Linked DNA regions of Homo sapiens. The protein of the gene in region 1 purifies or fractionates together with the protein of each later gene. This does not show direct contact. Each region holds a gene or a part of one and is shown on either strand. Other genes may lie near its edges.

Region 1 (4,339 bases):
AGCCCCCTCCTTTCCAGCTTTCCTCATTCCTACTTTAGAGTCCGCTATTGTGCCTTTATGCCTTCAAATTGGGGTATACCCATATATCCATATAAAAAACATTTTTCTTTCTGTAATCATTACAGGGGAGTCCAGTGTGATTTACAGAACAAATTGAAATCATTCTATCAAGATGTAAAAAAAATTAAGGGGAAGGCTCTGGGCTGGGGAATGTTAATTAGCCCCTAACCCACCCTATCATCTTTCTCTAGTTCACAAAGATAACTGTCAATTTATCCTCAATGTCCAGAATAATGCCTTATACCTAGTAAGCAATCAACAAATATTTGTTTAGAGAATGAGTAAACTATTACCATAGTTTATTTACCTGCTGAAATTATATTTTTCTAATTTTAAACTATTATGCAAAAAAAGTTTCCAGTTAAATATTTTGCATACCTCTTTTTGAACACCTGTTTATCTGTAGAATAAAAAAGTTAAATTAGAATGTCTGAAGCAATGTTCTTCAGTATAATCAATATTACTTCAAAGATTAATTTTAATATTTTAACTTCAATTAATACTGCCAAATCTACCCCCACCCCTAGCAGTGGCTATCCTGATTTATACTTCTACTAAGAATATTCACTTTTCCACAAAATTGATATTTTCAAATTTCAGTTTTAGCCAGTGTGGGAGAAAATGGATCTCTCTATTTTTTTGCTTTGCATGCCAGCATCACTAGTGCAGTTAAGCATCTTTTTTATGTGGTCAGTTTTATTTCATTCTTACTTCTTCATCTATTGTCTATTTATACATTTGCCCATTTCTCTGTAGGGTTGTCTTTTTCTTATATATATTTGTTTTCACTATCTATTCCAGATGTTAATTCTTTGTGCACTGTATGTTTCCTCTTTTTAAACTTTATTCATGGCATTTTTGTTCTATGAAACATTTTAGCCCATAATCTCACATCATGGAAGAGTAATTACCTTGCAAACCTCTCTTGTCTACTCCTACTCAGTAGCATCAAATCCAGTTGATTCAAGTCTTGCCCTCTCTTTAGAGGAAATATAGTGTGGTGATTAGAAGCATAGGCCAGGCATGGTGGCTCACACCTGTAATCCCAGCATTTTGGGAGGCCAAGGTGAGCAGATTACCTGAGGTCAGGAGTTTGAGACCAGCCTGGCCAACATGGTGAAACCCCGTCTTTACTAAAAATACAAAAATTAGCTGGGCATGGTGGCGCATGCCTGTAATCCCAGCTACTTGAGAGGCTGAGGCACGAGAATGGCTTGAACCCAGAAGGCGGGGATTGCAGTGAGCTAAGATCACGCCACTGCCTGGTGACAGAGCTAGACTCTGTCTCAAAAAATAAATAAATAAATAAAATTTTTTTTAAAAAAATAAGCATAGACTCTAGGACCAGGCACAGTGGCTCACACCTGTAATCCCAACACTTTGGGAGGTCGAGGCGGGCGGACCCCTTGAGCCCAGGAATTTGAGACCCGCCTGGGCAATATGGTGAAACCCTGTCACTATAAAAAAAATACCAAAAAAAAAAATAGGCTGGGAGTGGTGGCTCACGCCTGTAATCCCAGCACTTTGGGAGGCCAAGGCGGGTGGATCATGAGGTCAGGAGTTTGAAACCAGCCTGGCCAAGGTGGTGAAACCCCGTCTCTGCTAAAAATACAAAAATTAGCTGGGCATGGTGGCAGGCACCTGTAATCCCAGCTACTCGGGAGGCTGAGGCAGGAGAATCACTTGAACCCGGGAGATAGAGGTTGCAGTGAGCCAAGATCGCACCACTGCACTCCAGCCTGGGTGACAGAGCAAGACTCCATCTCAAAAAAAAAAAAAAAAGCCTAGCTGGGCAAGGTGGTATGTGCCTGCGGTCTCAGCTACTCAGGAGGCTGAGGTGAGAGAATTCATTGAGCCCGGCAGGTTGGAGCTGCAGTGAGCCATGATGGTGCCACAGCCCTCCAGCCTAGGCAGCAGGAAAGAGGCCCTTCTCAAAAAAAAAAAAGCATAGACTCTAGGGCCAAATTGATGTGCTCAAGCAAAGGTTTTGCCACTTACGGTGTAACCTTGGGCCAGTTGCTTAACCTCTCTTGACCTCACTTGCCTTCTTTGTAAACCAGAGGTGATAATAGTATACCCATTTCATAGGGCTGTGGTGAGAACTAGAGGAGTTAATACATTTAAAGAGCTTAAAAGTGTCTGGTGCATAGCAAGTGCTACGTAAATGTTAAACCTTTCCTGCCCTTTTCCTCTGCTCCTCCTTTCCCTTGTTTCCTGTTACAGCATTCCTTCTTTTTTTCTTACTATTTCCTCACTATGCCTTTGCTTGAATACTAAAAAGAAACTACTGGTCCAACAGCAGGCAACACCTCATGCGATTACTTTAAATGACTTCAAAATAATACAAACATATCCAGCACAATAGTTTACATTTTAAAGGTGTTACACCCATTTTGTTTTGAGATGTGTCAACAAAACCCGTGTTTCTTTTCTTTCTATAAGTTTAAAATGTCCCCAAATCAATTAACAATAGAGGAAAGTCACACGATCTGTTTTAATTTTTCTCTTTATACTGCTATCTCCTGTTTCCCCTGTTTTTACACTTCTTTGCAGCTCACTTTCCTTATCTGTAAGATATTCTTAGGATGAACTTAGTAAGAAATGTGCAAGATCTAGATGAAGACCCACCAGATAGGATGCTCTCTTGCAGACACGCAACTCACTGACTCAACCAATGAGGAAATTATCCCACAAAGCAGATAATCCTAATGGAGGGCAGAATTCAGGACTGAGCATCTCAGTGATGCCGCCGGGAACCCAGGCTTCTCTGTCCCTTCACCGGACTAACCGAGTTCGAGACCACAGGGGGGTCAGGTAGCCAAGGCTGGGCTTTGACGGTAGGAATGAAGGAGGTGAGGGTGGCGCGCCGCAGGCCTGGGCCACTCCCTGAGTAGGGCGGCGGCGGCGGCGGCGGCGGCGGCGGCAGCGGCGGCAGCGGCTGCAGGCCTGGCCGATTGTGAGGAGACAGCGGTACCTCCTGGGCCGCGCACCCGACCCTTCCAGGGGTCCCGGCTCGCGCCGCGGCCGCGCGAGGCGCGCTCGAGCGGAAGTGGCGGCGACCCCGCCGGAAGCGCGCGGCTGCGGCGCGGGAAGCAACCCAGAGCCCTCCTCCCGCCTGCTCTGTGTAGGAGACAGCCTGCGGAGCCCACTGCCGGCGCGCAGAGAGCCCAGCAGCTCTTGAGTCCAGGAAGCAAGGGTGGGAGGAGGGACGAGCCAGTGGCAATGACCCAGACCCGGACGACCCCCATTGCTGAGCCAGCGGAGCTGCTTGGTGAGTGGCCTCCAGGCGGCATCTCTTGCTCTCAGCCCGGAGGGGGTTTTGGGGACCCAGGCTGTGGGGCTGCCTCTTCCCATGCCTTCAGTTCACCCCGATATGGGGTGAAAAACCCTAGAGACCCTCGGGTGTCGGTCCACCAAGGGAGGTCCAGACTCCCCAGGAATGTTGCCTGGGGAGGGGTGTCGCGGTGGGGGGGGGGGTGACCCAGGCCCACCCTCTGCAGGGCACTTAAAATGCTCCACATCCCCAGTGGATGCCTCCTGTCACGCATCACACCGTGGTGTATTTGAGATCCCATCTGCCACTTGGGCTGGAGGGAAATGAATGTTTTTGGGTTTCTTGTCATTGCTTCCTGCGGATTCCATTTTACTCCTGTTCGTTTATGGCCTCAAACATGAATTTGAAGAATTTTGCCCTCCCTGGCAGTATTGGGAAGAAGATTCTTTTGTTCAAGTCCGTTTGGACAATTAGATGGGAGTATTAACAAAAGGTCGGGCTGGGCACAGTGGCTCACACCTGTAATCCCAACACTTTGGGAGGCCAAAGAGCAAGGATCGCTTGAGCCCAGGAGTTCGAAACCAGCTGGGGCAACAGAGGGAGAACTTGTCTCTACAAAAAATTTAAAAATCAGCTGGGCATGGTGGTGCACGCCTGTAGCCCAAGCTATATGGGAAGCTGAGGTGGGAGGATTGCTTGAGCCCGAGAGTTTGAGGCTGCTGTGAGCTGAGATCACGCCACTGCATTCCAGCCTGGGCAACAAAGCAAGACCCTGTCTGAGGTCAACTCTGCCCCCAGGAAGGTATGGGACCTTGCAATCTTATCTAGGTTGCGTCTTTTTCATTGAAATCACGAAATCATTAAGGTAAGTAGGGAAGGGTCAAGATAGCTAAGATGAGTGAGGGGACACAGACACCAATAAAAGTTCTAACTTTGAGGACTCCTCCAGTATTCTTTTCATCCTAAAGCTTCTGGCCTATCAGCTAGTTCAGACACAGCCTAGGA
Region 2 (3,660 bases), on another chromosome or scaffold:
GGCATGCAGGCTCTGCTTCCACCTGGAGGCTGCAGAGGCTGTGAACCCACTGACCACGTGGTACTGACAGCTCCTGGGACGATCTAACACCACCTCCCATTCCCCAGGGCAGGGCAGGTGTGTTTGAGGATAAAGACCTCCTTGGCTGGCTGAGCCCCAAGAAGCTGAAGACGGAAGGCACGGGCGACACACAGACACAGGGAAAACATTTGTCCTGGCTTCCCCAGCACAGGGGCAGAGGGAGGACCCTATGGAAGCCCTCAGGAGCAAATGGAAACTTGGGTGCCTGAGGCCTCTGAGTCCCAACAGAAGCAGTCAGTGGGGGCCAGCCAGAGGGAGGTGGGTGCATGCAAGGGCTCTGACTGCCCTTGTTCCCCGACACCCTGAACAGCTGCAAACAGGGGGGTCCTGGCCTCAGAGGCAATCCTGGCAGAGGCCGTCCCAAGTCACCATTCTCATTCTGTTTGGGCCCTGGGGATGGGAAGATTGATTAAGTGTCATCCAGCATAAGCCACTCCTGCAACAAGTGCAATGAAGTCAGGTTTAATTTTGAGATTCCTGTGCCCTCACTCACGCAAGGAGGAAGTCACCTGGCTCCAGTGAACACGTGTGGAACAGAAATCAGGGCCACTGAAAAGCCACCACCCACTTGAGAGGGCTTGTTCTCAACAAACCTGACTCAGATGGGCCCACTTTGGGCCTTTAGTCAGATTTAGAGAAAACCCCCGGCTCATCCAATCAATGTGCAATCAATTTCTACACCATGGCAGAGGTAGGAAAAGCCAGTCACATGTCCAAATGATGAGTGAAAATCAAGGCATCGTGGAGCCACCTCCTCCAGAGGGGGAGCCACAATCTCAGGACCCCGAAGGAGCAGACATTTTCAAGTGGCTCCTTTACATTAAGCAAAATGTGGTCCTCTCATTCGGGTCTGAAGCATCATTTGTGTGTGAGCCCGGCCCACTGGGGACCTCTGGCTGCCAGGTGGAGAGCCTCCTGGTGCAGATAGCAAGGTGGAGGGCAGAACTGCAAAAATCCAGGGCTCCAGTATGGATGTGATTCCCACAGAGTTCAGTCCCCTTTATTTACCCAAGTCCCATGGTACAAATCCCTGGCCTGCCACCTGCAAATCCACCGAGCTCCTGATTCCTGCTCCCCTGATCATGGTGTTGCTCTCTGCATGATTAGCTGCTGGTTCTCCAGACACTGCTTCAGCTTGTCTTCTGTCAGTGTCAACCGCTGCTCCAGAATGGAGACTGTCTGCAAAATAAACAGTGGTTGGGTCAGAACACAGAAGGGCCGCCAGGCTGCTCTAGGGACCCCCTTGGCCAGTCCCCACTTGGCTGCCTCAGCCACTGCCCAAATGCCAGCTGGCTCTTTCCACCCAGGGGTTCTGCCAGGCCCCTTGTCTCTGGTGCTATTGGGATAGCCCTTGCCTTTATGTCTGCTTCTCCTGGCTCTGGATGGCTGATCTATAATGTTTGTGGGCAGGGGGTGGGGACACAGTGAGGGAAACTAGATGGCAGGTCCCATAGCCTTTGGTCATTTCTCAAGAGAACCAAGGGGTCAGGAACCCCCCACCCTGGTGGCCTGGCATTTATATTGGAGTTCTGCAGCAAAACCAGTTTCCTTGTCTGAGCCAGGCACTGTCCATAAACAACTGGAGACCATCAACCACCTCCACTCCAGAGGTGAGAAAATTGCACCCACAAATGATGGCACTCCACTTGGGTCCTTCCCCTCACACCTGGAAGAGCCTCCCAGGCTGGCAGGGGACAAAGGCAGGGAGGTGAGTCCCCTGATCCCAGGAGGGTCTCTGCCTGTCCAAGTCCAACGAATACTACTATAGGATATGTCATGTGGGACTTCAGCCCAGGGCAATCACAGGCCATGACAACTTCATCTCTCTGAGCCCACTTTCTCCTCCTTCGCCCAGTGCGAAAGACAACCAAGCTCATGGCCTAGGTAACTCAGCAGCCCAGCAGTTGCTCACTCTGACCATGCTTGTCAGAGTGCTTGTCAGGCAGATCATGCTGCCTTCCTGAAGCTGGGCCCTTGCTCTCCTGGCCTCTCTTACACACCCAGCACAATGGCTCACCTGCGGACCTGGCTGCCTGGCCTGCCAAAGGCCCCCAGCTGCTGGAGCTGCATGTGCTTCATGGGCCAGGGCCAGTCTTGCAGACATAGCTCCCAGACAGGCTGGGAAAAGCTGCCCTCCTCCTCTGGCTTTGGATAGAGTGTCAGCAGAGGGGCAGCACTGTCTGGGAGCCTGCATGCTCCCCAAAGAGGGGCTGGACCAGAGCAAGCCTGCCCCACTCATCACTTGCGCGGGTTGGACCATGCTGGCCATGACGCCTTTGGCATCATTTCACTTCCCTCTTTAGGGTTGGCTGAGTGCCTTACTGTATGCCAGGCCCCTGCTGGCCAATGGATGAGCCCATGTGAGTATGGCAGCCTTGACTCCGGTACTGTGCAGCCCATAGGCATCAGGAGGGTCAGATTAACCTCACCCGTGTGCTTTCCCAAGAGGTTTTGCCCCCTTCCCTGGGGCTCCATGAAGTCCTGGGCCTTGGTCCAGTGGAAAGGAAACTTTCTTTCATACATTTAATAAAACATTGAAACATTTTAGAAGGGAGTCTCCCCCTTTAAGGCTGCTATAAATTCTTGCAGCGTCCGGCACAGACATTAGCTGCCATGGAGGGTGCTCCGCCTGGTGGCTGGCCCCTTCTAAATGGGCCAATCAGGGCTGTGAGGGCTCTGAACCCTCTGTCACTGGACAGAGCCTGGAAAAATTGCTGCCCATGGAACACAAACTGCACCCTAAGAGGCAGAGCTGAGCTGAAAGAGACCATCACATTCCCCCTGTGCTGGCCAGCCAGCCGGGGAGGGGGTCTGCAGCTCGTAAAAGTGGCAGCGGAAACAGCCCCTGGCTGGCCCGGGGCAGCATTCCTGGAAGTTTCCACTGGCTGCTGTGAAACTCATAGGGCCAAAATCATTCTTCATCCAGACTTTTTCCGATGGCCCCAAACTCAAGGCCGCAGCAGAGGAGCCTGTTTTTCCTCTTCTGCCTTTTTTTTTTTCTTGAAACTTTTCACAGGAACCCAATTTGCAAACGTGGAGATAGTGGGCCCAGAAAACGTGGGTGAGGTGCTGGGCCAACGTCAATACAAGGGACTCCACTTAGTTCCATAGGGGGCCCATACTTCAGCTCAGTAGGAATGTGACCACTAAATGTGTCTAAATTATTTGAAAAGAGAAGCATCACCTGTTTCACAACCAGCCCCCTGCATGAAGGGTGCCACCCCGTTGAGGCCTTCCTCTGAGAGCTTTGAGGATCACTTCACAGCACAGTAGACAAACAGGCTTTTATGAGGCCCAACACCCCTCAAGGCAGTTTCTCCCCCTCCAGCCTAGCTTCAGAGGAGCTGTGTCATCTCTGTGTTTGGTCTCAGCTTCCCCTGTTCCTTCTCTGCCAAGGTGCCTCGTGGTGGCCACCATCAGGGAGAAAGAAGTCCAACCAGGCCCTTCCCAGCACACGTGATCCCAGCTGCCCCCACTCTGAGCCAGGAGAAGGCCTGGGAGAGCAGGATGCTTTTTGGATTTCTGTACATTAGAATGCTGTCTGGCACTCTTTGCTCCATGTAGTTAAAAAAAAAAAAT

The links.
Region 2: the proteins of KHDC1 (region 1) and POC1A purify together in Homo sapiens (affinity purification with mass spectrometry; one large-scale study listed by BioGRID and IntAct). This does not show direct contact.

What each region holds. Positions count from the first base shown.
Region 1 is NC_000006.12:73,260,086-73,264,424, forward strand, and holds the start of KHDC1 (KH homology domain-containing protein 1), read right to left. Parts: upstream 3,112-4,339; 5' UTR 2,689-3,111; intron 1-2,688.
Region 2 is NC_000003.12:52,074,726-52,078,385, forward strand, and holds the end of POC1A (POC1 centriolar protein homolog A), read right to left. Parts: intron 1,261-3,660; coding exon 1,162-1,260; 3' UTR 501-1,161; downstream 1-500.